3 separate regions of the Homo sapiens genome follow, and regions 1 and 2 are each reported to be linked to region 3. Evidence: microRNA targets listed by miRTarBase, many of them from high-throughput screens and not tested one by one. Region 3 holds a microRNA gene; each other region holds the end of a gene's coding sequence.
Evidence for each region. The annotated mature microRNA hsa-miR-6879-3p reads UGUCACCCGCUCCUUGCCCAG and lies in region 3 at 1,990-2,010, opposite strand. An mRNA with a match to its seed (bases 2 to 7 or 8) in the 3' UTR can be bound and repressed. Matches are read on the target gene's strand: a 7mer-m8 pairs with bases 2 to 8, a 7mer-A1 pairs with bases 2 to 7 and ends in A, and an 8mer does both.

Region 1 (3,247 bases), not on the chromosome of region 3:
GCTATGACTGTGCCACTGCACTCCAGCCTGGGTGACAGAGTGAGACCCTATCTCAAACAAAACAACAAAAAATACTCGGTGGGATTATCGTCTTCACTGTGGCTGTCTCTGGGATAAGTGATATTTCTAGAGTCTTATAGCATTTTGAATTTGTTTTACAATGAAAGCACAGGCAGAGAAACCTATAAATATTTTTTCAGAAACAGTTATCAGTATAGAAGCTTTTTTGGAAGGACACTCAGGAAGCTGCCTCTGGGGAGGGGCCTGAGGAGGTCTGTACTTTTCACTGCATACCATTTGATACAACTTGGATTACTTACCAGTGCATACAGGGTCTATTAAAAACTATCTCACAAAGCAAAACAAATACTTATCTTTCTGTTCTAGCTGCTCTTACTAGTTAGAGACTGAGCCAGGGAGGCCCAGAGGGGTCAAGCAACATCTCTGGGGTCACCCAGCAAATCTGGTGGCGGAGTGGGCCTCCAGCCAGAGCACCCAAGTGTCTGCTCTGCCCCCACTCCCAGGCTTCCTGCCATTGACAAGGCCACAGTCCTTTTCCTGTGGCTTTGCCAGAGGCTGGCTGTACCTGGGAGGGTAGGCGCAGGGGGAGCAATGTGCTTTCCTAATCAGCTCCCAAAGGGGGAAGCACAGCCACGCTGGGACACAGGATAAGCACGACCAGTGTTCCTGAAACAGCGGGGAAGTGAGGTAGAGGGTGCTTGGAAAGCTCTCCTGGGTGGGGGACCCCGGCCCCCTGGGGCCCTCCTTCCTCTACTTCTTACACCAAAGGAATTAAGCATGGTAATTTCATGGCCTGCTCCAGCCTAGGGACTGGCAATTCCACAACTCCCTTGATCTCCCTGGGCCTCGGTTTTCATCTGTGAGGAAGACCAGGTTGGTCGGGCTCATTCCTGTGGCATCTGGCACAGTGCCTGCCACACAGAGGGTATTGACAATCTGTTTGTCAATTTGCAAAATCGGAGCCACAATTCAGGCTCAGATGGTCAAACGCAGGGGAGTGGGGTAGAGGCAGAACAGAGGGGATACGAACGTGGACTCTGGGGCCAGAGTGCAGTCAGTAAACATGAAATAGATCACTTGAGCTCAGGAGTTTGAGACCAGCCTGGGCAACATAGTGAGACCCTGTCTCTAAAAAAATAAAAATAAAAGTGTTTGTTAAATAAATAAACTGTTGAAATAGGCATATGAATGTACCTTGCTGAGGAGAGGGTGGCTGCCTGGCTGCCCTGGCCTTTCCCTGGCTCTCCCACCCTCGGGCCTCTCGAGCTTCTCTGATCCTGACCTCACAGGGACACAGCCCCAGCCCGAGAGCCAAGAACTCCTAGCTGCACTGATCAGCTGACGCATCGCTGTCTCTGCTGGGTCTGCAGTGGGGAAGACACCAGCTCTCACCTCCCAGGGCTCCTGGGAGTGTAATTGGGGTAACAGGTGCTGGCTTTCCACTTGGGGCATCTCCAGGGCAAGGAAGGAGCTGCTCTGGGCTTCAAAGGTGGACGGACCTCAGGGTGTCACCCTGCCACGTGCCTCTGGGTGTCATCGGTCTTCTAAAGCATTTCAGCTAACACAGGGGTAAGAATATTCCCCTTTAGCATGCACTCATTTGCACTTGTGGAAAACCACATGGCTTGTTGGTGATCGCATCAAAGAGGGATGGGTTAAAGGATGGCATGTTCACAAAATGGAATAATAAGCAGCTCAGGAAGAAATGAAATACCCTTTAGGTACTGACTTGGGATGATACCAAGCTAGATTAAGGAAAAAAAGAAGGAGCCAAAAGTGTGTACGATGTGCTGTCATTTGTGTATTTGCCTGATCATTCATAGTGAATGGGACATCACAGGAAACTGGTGCCCTAGGCTGCTTGCAGAGAGGAGAGCTGGTGGCTGGAGGACAGGGGCACGGAGACTTTTCAACACATACCCTCTGGTACCTTCTGAGTTTTGAACCATGTGAATGAAATGAACACAGGCCTTATTCAAAAATAAGTAAAATTAAGATTTCTTTACCAACCATATCAGACACCTAACAGTTGTTAAGAACATCTGATAAACAGCAGACTGAGGAAAGTTTGGTTATGGCGCCCGGAGAGGGGGCTCTGCCTGCCTTCCCCCGCCCCACCCCCACCCTTCCAGGGCTCAGGGCAGCCCCCAGAACATCTGTGCCTCTCTCTAGGTCCAGGGGAGGGCCCACCTCTGACCTCCGATGTCCACGGGACTCTCCTCAGCTCAGAACGACGTCTTTTATTTAAAAATAGCTTTTATTTTAAACTCACCAATTCTCTCTCACACACACTCACACTCACGCACAGATACACACACACCCTGTCACCAACAGTCTTTGTTTTTCCAAAAGTTCTGCCTTGTCTCTGACCAGCCAGAGCTGGGCAGGCTGAATGGATCCTCACAGCTCTCCAGGATCGGGTGGAGATGTCCCGAGGGCCCTGCCCAGAGTGTCCCGGAACAGGCCATGGTCCCCCGGTCCCTACACAAAGAAGGGGTGGGCTTGGCTCCTGGGGTCTTCTTCCCTGTCCAGCCAGTGGCTGGCTCCTGGCCTCCTTCTCCAGGGTCCAGGCTCATCTCCGTGGCCCTCGAAGGGGGGCCACCCCCCTCACCTTCAAGCAGCTGCCCCCCAGGTCACGACGGCCACCCTGCAGAGGGGGAGAAAGAGTATAAAGAGGTTCGATTAGGCCAGTGTGAACACTGGAACTAACCTCTGTATCCCTCAAGAGGGATCCTGATCAATAAATCACAGTTCAGCCACACGATCAAGTTCTCTGCAACAGAAAGCAGAAGAAACCCTTTCTGGACTGATACAGACTGCTGCCAAATGACAATGTTTAGGGACAAAAGCAAGGGGCAGGCTGAATGCGCCTGTGTGCTGTGATTGCTGGGGAGAAGCACACACGGGAAATTGTGAGTGGGTTTCTTCAGAGAGGAATTTGATGATGGAGAGAGGATGGGAGGGAGGCTCTCTCATGCTATACTGTTTTTTGAGATGGAGTCTTGCTCTGTTGCCAGGCTGGAATGCAGTGGCACAATCTCAGCTCACTGCAACCTCTGCCTCCCGGGTTCAAGTGATTCTCCTGCCTCATCCTCCCGAGTAGCGGGGACTACAGGGGCCCACCGCCACACCCGGCTAATTTTTGTATTCACGCTATACTTTTTTACCTTTTCTACTTCTTTCCCATATGATCTGTTGCTTAAAAAAAATCCAATATATTTTAAAG
Region 2 (3,247 bases), not on the chromosome of region 3:
CTGGGCTCAAGTGATCCTCCTGCCTTGGCTTCCCAAAGTGCTGGGATTACAGGCGTGAGCCACTGCACCTGGCCTCAAACGGTTTTTTTGGATAAATAAGAACTTTGGTTTTATTTTTCTTCCAACCTTTTTTCGTGTGTGCGCATCTTCCCGAGGTGGATCGGGCTGTCCTTACTCACAGCCCTGAGGCCTCTTTCCTTTCAGCAGCGTCGGAAACACCACCTCAGCTTTAAGACTCTGAACTAGGCTGGGTGGAGGGGCTCACGCCTGGAATCCCAGCACTTTGGGAGGCTGAGGCAGGTGAATCACCTGAGGTCAGGAGTTCAAGACCAGCCCGGCCAACATGGCGCAACTCCATCTCTACTAAAAATACAAAAATGATCCGGGCGTGGTGGTGGGCGCCTGTAATCCCAGCTACTTGGGAGGCTGAGACACAAGAATCACTTGAACCCGGGAGGTGGAGGTTGCAGTGAGCTGAGATCGTGTCAATGCACTCCAGCCCGGCTGACATGAGCAAAACTCCATCTGAAAAAAAAAAAAAAAACTCTGAACGGGCCAGTCAGCCGAATGCAACCTCCACCGGCCTGCACAGCAGTGTCCCGGTGACTGCCCTGCTGACAAATCTTTGCCTGTCAGCTAGGCTATCTCCCCAGGGCAGCTTCCCATAAGGAGAACCCTGGCCTCAGGGGCTCCTTCCCCAGCACGGCAACAAGTGTTTGGGAAAACTTTCCCATCTTACACAAGATGATTTCTATGGTGCTCTGGGTGATTATTATGTCCTTCAAAACGGAATAAAACAATTGAACTTTAAGCAATCACTCCATCAACACATTAAAAAAATAGGTTTAATGCAGGTGGGTCATGGCATGACGAATTTCACAGGCACCGGGGACAGCAGGCGGCCAGGTGCTCAGAGGGCACCAAGGTGCCACAACTCCCTGCAGCGTTGACACCGCACGAGCGGCACCACCAGCCCCCTCCCGCCTCCCGTCCCACCTTCACCCTCAGCCAAGAGGCTTGGGTGACTCTGAGTAATACGTTAACAAAAAACAAAGCTTCTTTGAGGAAACAGCATGACTTAGTGCAAAAGATTCTCTGCAGCAAGAAATGAGGCCCACGCAGGGAAGCTCCCGCCTACCTGCCCAGGGCGTGGACGCAGCCCGGGCTCATCAGAGGTCATCCACAGAAGCTGCCGATAAATTAGAGAGCACGGTTTACGGCCAGAGATTTTTTGCTTTCTCTACCTGATTTAGGGTTTTTCAAAAAGTTTCTCTTCCAGTGGCACACAACTGTCCTCATGGCTCCTGGGCCACTGGTCCGCCTGACAGGGTAGGGTCACAAGTCCCACCCATGCCCAGAGTGTGGGGACATGGATTTGAGGTGACACTAGGGTTGTCAGTACCACACCCTGTGTCCTGCTCTAGGGTAGCCTCTGCCTGTTGTCCTTGCAATCATTATTCAGGGCGCCCTCCCACTTGCCCCCAAAGTCACACGGCCATGGGCAGTCCACCATAGTGCTGCCGTGACTGCAAGGCTGAGGAGCAGAGCAAGGGGTCCTGGGTGAGACCTCGGCCCATGGTGGCCACCCTCCCTGAACACAGGCATCTGCGCCCCTCCAGCCCACCTGCCCCTGTGCCATCATTTGGGCCCCCCAGACACTGGAGGACAGCGTGAGATAAGATCTCAGCATATACCTGGGGCTCTAAGATGCTGCTGGTGCCACACAGGCTCTGGGGCTGTGTTTGCCGCACTGAGGCCTCTGCCGCCTGCTCCGGACACTTGGGACACGCGTTTCCATCCTGGCTCACTGAAGCCTCGATCTCCCAGGCTTTCTTTGACGGTGTTCCCTCAAAGAAAGAGGCCCAAAGCCCTCCCCCGCAAAAAAAGCCAGAAAGGAATGGAGGTGCCTCCGCAGAAATCCAGAGCATCTGCAAGACATCCTCACAGCCCTCCCAGAACAGGCAGACAGGCCAGTGTTGCTGGAGTCAGCCCCTGGCTCCCAGGGTTCCCCCCAGGCCAGCCCCTGAGCTGGGAGCCTGCTGAGGCCCCTCCCACCTGAGCCCTTCTCCGGCCCCCCGCTAGACTGCATCTACACAATCCAAGGGGACCCTGAAGGCTGGCTGGGGACTCAGGACCCACACAGCCCCTCAGGATGACACACACAGGGTGGTCCGCGGGCAGTGCCAGGCCTCAGGCGGCCCAGGGCAGAGTAAGCAGCTTTGTGGCAGTGTGGTGTGTCAGCGAGGGGAGCCTTCCGTGTCCCGTTGGCTGGGGCTGGGGCCAGGGCACGCAGAAGGGGCTGTGCAGCCAGGAGGGCCCCCCTCCGGAATTGCTCCTGGGCACACAGCCCTCTGTGTCCAGGGGCCTCCCAGGGTGATGTCTAAAGTCCCTGGCAGCTGTGGTCCTGGAGAGAGGCCCACAGAGAGGCGGAACGGAGGGCCCACCCCGCAGTACGACCCGAAGACATGTGAGCAGGAGCCACCGGCAGGTGGGCGCTGCCCCTGAGAGTGCATACGGGGAGGGTGGGTCCAGGAAGCCAGCCTAGGGGTGGTGTCCGCGCCCCCATCACAGAAGTCTCAGCCCTTTCTTTTCTCTCCGTGGGCGCCGGGCAGCAGCGACTGCCTGGGGGATGGGCGAAGGGAAGGCGCTGGCCGACCCCACCCATGGAGAGAACACAGCCACAGGCCGGGACGATACATCAAGCTCGCACCCACGGCCCTCACATGTCCACGAAGACCATGAAGCACCAGCCCAGGCCCCCGACCAGCAGCATGGTGACGTGGATGCCATAGACGAGCAGCTCGTTCACCAGGCGGAAGTCCACGCGCCGGCGGCCCAGCAGCAGCAGCAGCACCGACAGCTTGCGCTGGAAGCGCAGCAGGACGCGAACGCCCAGGTACTGTAGGCAGAAGAGGGCGGCCAGCGCACCCCAGAGCGCCGCAGTGAACAGGCTGCAGCTAAAGTAGAGTAGGAAGCGGATGAAGCCGTACAGCCAGCGCGTCTTGATGTACACGTCGAAGTTGTTGTACTTGGTGCGGGCCAGGTGGGAGGCGCGCACGGGCCCGCAGGCCGCATGCAGGCAGGTGGTGTGCGGGCCGTGGAAGGAGCGCACCCGCCGCGGAATGGGCATGACCGGCATTGGGCCCCGGCGGCGGCGGCGCTAGGTCGCAGTGGCGGCGGCGGTGTCCAGGCGGCTGTTGGCGTAGGGGTCATGGGCGCCTAGGCCTGGGAGCCCGCAGCTGACCCT
Region 3 (3,247 bases):
TAAAATAAATAAATGTATGCCCCTTTCCCTCAGCGAGCCTGTCCCGGGGCCTGGACTCACCTCGCGGATGGCGTTAGAGGACAGTGCTCCAGGCAGGTCCTGCTTATTAGCAAAGATGAGGAGGGTTGCTCCGGCCAGGCGCTGGGGGAGAAAAGATAGAGGGGTGGGGTGGGGACTCAGAGGACAGCCTGACCCCTCCTCTAATGGCCCAGAGCATCTGGGGTGAAGGATCGACCTGGAAGATCAAGGTGAGGCCCCGTGGTGGTGGGAGAGGCCCAGGAGTGAGTTTGTGGACGTAGCCATCAAGGCTGGCCCACATGAATGGAGCAGCCCTGGGCCAGGGTTCTGGTTCCAGCCAACCACCACCCAGGGGACACCGCTGTCCCCATGCTCCAGCTTCCTCTTCCATGAACAGGGAGGGGTGTTGCATAAGATGATCCCTGAGCTCTCCGTGGTTCTAGACTGCTCCAATCTGATGACCAGACATGCACAGAGGATGTGAACTCTCCCTCTTCTGGGTTCACACAGCCCTTTAACCGTTCCACTCCCGACAGGCCTCACTGTCCACCTCTGATTCTAGTTGTTTCCACATATGTGTCTGTGATTGGGAGAGATGTGGGTGGACGGGTCTAACCCTTGGGCCTTGACCTGCCTTGACCAGCATTTGACGGCCCTGATCTCATCTGACCTGCTCCACCCACATAGGAGATGTGTGCGGTGTGCCCAGGACAGTCCCCACTCTGCCTGCAGAATCCCCCCTTTCACTCTCACAAGTGTCCTCATTTTCAACTAAATGCAATTTTGTAGCCTGAATCAAACATTGGAACACAAAAAGTATATTAGTGGAAAAACGTGAAATTCAAATAAAATCTGTAATTAAGATAATAGTAATTCACCAGTGTTGATTTATTAGTTTGGACAGGCCACGGTTAGGTAAGATGGGGAAGCAAGGTAAAGGGTATATGGGGGACCTCTGACCTCTGTACTATCTTTGCAAGTGTCCTTCTTTTTTTTTTTTGAGACGGAGTCTCACTCTGTTGCCCAGGCTGGAGTGCAGTGGCACAATCTCGGCTCACTGCAAGCTCCGCCTCCCAGGTTCACGCCATTTTCCTGCCTCAGCCTCCTGAGTAGCTGGGACTACAGGCGCCCGCCACCATGCCTGGCTAATTTTTTGTATTTTTAGTAGACACGGGGTTTCACCATGTTAGCCAGGACGGTCTCGATCTCCTGACCTCGTGATCCGCCCGCTTCAGCCTCCCAAAGTGCTGGGATTACAGGCGTGAGCCACCGCACCTGGCCCCTTCCTTTTTTTTTTTTTTTGAGACAGGGTCTTGCTCTGTCGCCCAGGAGGCTGGAGTGCAGTGGCACGATCACAGCTCACTGCAGCCTCAACCTCCTGGGCTCAACTGATCCTCCTGTCTGAGCCTCCAGAGTAGCTAGGACTATAGGTGCGTGCCACCACCCCCAGCTGAGGTCACACAGCAAAGAGTCAGACTCTTGAGCCAGGCTCCATGGCCTCTCGAAGCTTCATACTGGCCTTGGGTTATCCTCCCTAAAGCCCAGTGATGTGGGTGTCATCATCACCATTTCAAGGCATAGAAACTGATGCTCAGGGTAGTGACGTAGTAACACCACAGGGACGTTAACTCAATCTCAGTCCACAGCATGTGTCCTGCCTCTGGCACCATGGGCCTCCCATGGTGGGGGCCCAGAGAAGGAAGGGATCCTGCCTCTGGTTTCCCTCTGGGGCCACGGGCCCCTCTGGGCATCTGCTGAGAAGGCAGCCACACGTCCATACATGTACACAAAGGGTAGGAGCTGCCCACCTCCTCCACCAGCAGGCTCTGGAGCTCCCGCTGGCAGTCCTGCATGCGCTGGCGGTCTGCGCTGTCCACTACCCAGATGAGGCCATCGGTGCTCTCAAAGTAGTTCCGCCAGTAGGACCGCAGGGACTTCTGGCCACCCACATCCCAGATGTTCAGCTTGAATCTGGGCAAGGAGCGGGTGACAGGAGGGTCAGCTGGGCCCCTCTCCCACCTTCCCTGCCCTGCTCTGGGCTGGCCCTCCCATGGGGCCCCTGCTCACCCTCGGTGCTCCAGGGTCTTGATGTTGAAGCCCAGCGTTGGGGAGATGGTGTCGATGTCCTCCCCATTGAACTTCTTCAGGATGGTTGTCTTTCCAGCATTGTCCAGGCCACTGGGGCGCAGCAGGTTAAGGAGAAGTCCCTGTTCTCTGCCAGGTGGTGACATTGTTGCAGAGCCCCTTAGGGGACTCATTATTTCCCACCATGTATCAAACTGAGTTGAGCACATGCCTGACCATAATCGGCCCACAATAAATATGAAAGTATCAAATTATAAATATCATCTCTACTGACCAAAGGCTCCTTAATTTGTTGAACACCTACTATGTGCCAGACCCTCTTCTGGGTGCTAGAGGACAAAGCCCTGCCCTTAGGAAGCTTACACTCTAGCGGGAAGACAGTCAATAAAGTACAAACAAATGAGAAAAGAAGGCCCTGCCAGATCCCGGCTAGCGCCATCAACACAACAGAGAGGCTTTCCAAGAGGGCCATCGGAGGAGGCTCTTTCAGCTCAGGTGCCGGGGAAGGCCTCTCTGAGGTGTCTGGAGCTGAGACCCAAAATACAAGGAGCAAGCTTTTTGAAGAACTAAGGTAAGAACAAATATCTGGAGGCAGCCACCCTCATTTGTTTCTGGAATATTCCAGACCTGCTACTGCACAGTGCAAATTAATGGGTGTGCTTACCTGTGGAAGGAACCACCCTCCTCTATCTTCCCAACACTGCAGCTCAGTTGGGCATGGTGGGGTGGGCGGGTCCTGGACTCGACCACCTTTCCCTGCTCATCGGAGCTGGGGCAAATGACCTAGGCCCAGGAGAGGGGTGAGGAGGGCATTTCCCCTGAGGCCCAGCCTTAGCCCCTGGAACCTAGCCGCTGATGACCCCCTGCCCCCAAGCCATCATCCATGTTTCCTTCCCCTCTTGATCATTCCCACTGGCTGATGAGCTTGCCGTTCTTTCTCCCACCTTAAAAAGAGCAAATAGGCCGGGCGCGGTGGCTCACACCTGTAATCCCAGCACTTTGGGAGGCCAAGGTGGGTGGATCATCTGAGGTCAGGAGTTCGAAACCAGCCTGACCAACAAGGTGAAACCCCATCTCTACTAAAACTACAAAAATCAGCCAGGCGTGGTGGCGGGCCCCTATAGTCCCAGCTACTCGGGAGGCT

Region 1: the mRNA of TCF15 is a reported target of hsa-miR-6879-3p. Seed matches in the 3' UTR shown: 7mer-A1 at 2,344-2,350.
Region 2: the mRNA of TMEM250 is a reported target of hsa-miR-6879-3p. The part of its 3' UTR that is shown has no 7-base or 8-base seed match.

What each region holds. Positions count from the first base shown.
Region 1 is chr20:601,998-605,244 of GRCh38, forward strand. It overlaps TCF15 (transcription factor 15), which reads right to left. Exons shown (of 2, transcript NM_004609.4): 2 at 2,260-2,668. The coding sequence ends at 2,594. Among named protein-coding and RNA genes, the nearest start is that of TCF15, 6.7 kb to the right of the region's middle.
Region 2 is chr9:136,113,762-136,117,008 of GRCh38, forward strand. TMEM250 (transmembrane protein 250) reads right to left here. Exons shown (of 2, transcript NM_152833.3): 2 at 828-3,247. The coding sequence starts at 3,139. The coding sequence ends at 2,720. Among named protein-coding and RNA genes, the nearest start is that of TMEM250, 3.5 kb to the right of the region's middle. RefSeq lists an enhancer at 3,060-3,247.
Region 3 is chr11:65,017,313-65,020,559 of GRCh38, reverse strand. It overlaps MIR6879 (microRNA 6879), which reads right to left and starts at 2,055; the gene lies at 1,990-2,055. It overlaps ARL2 (ARF like GTPase 2), which reads right to left. Exons shown (of 5, transcript NM_001667.4): 2 at 2,086-2,196; 3 at 1,827-1,989; 4 at 61-141. It overlaps ARL2-SNX15 (ARL2-SNX15 readthrough (NMD candidate)), which reads right to left. Exons shown (of 11, transcript NR_037650.2): 2 at 2,086-2,196; 3 at 1,827-1,989.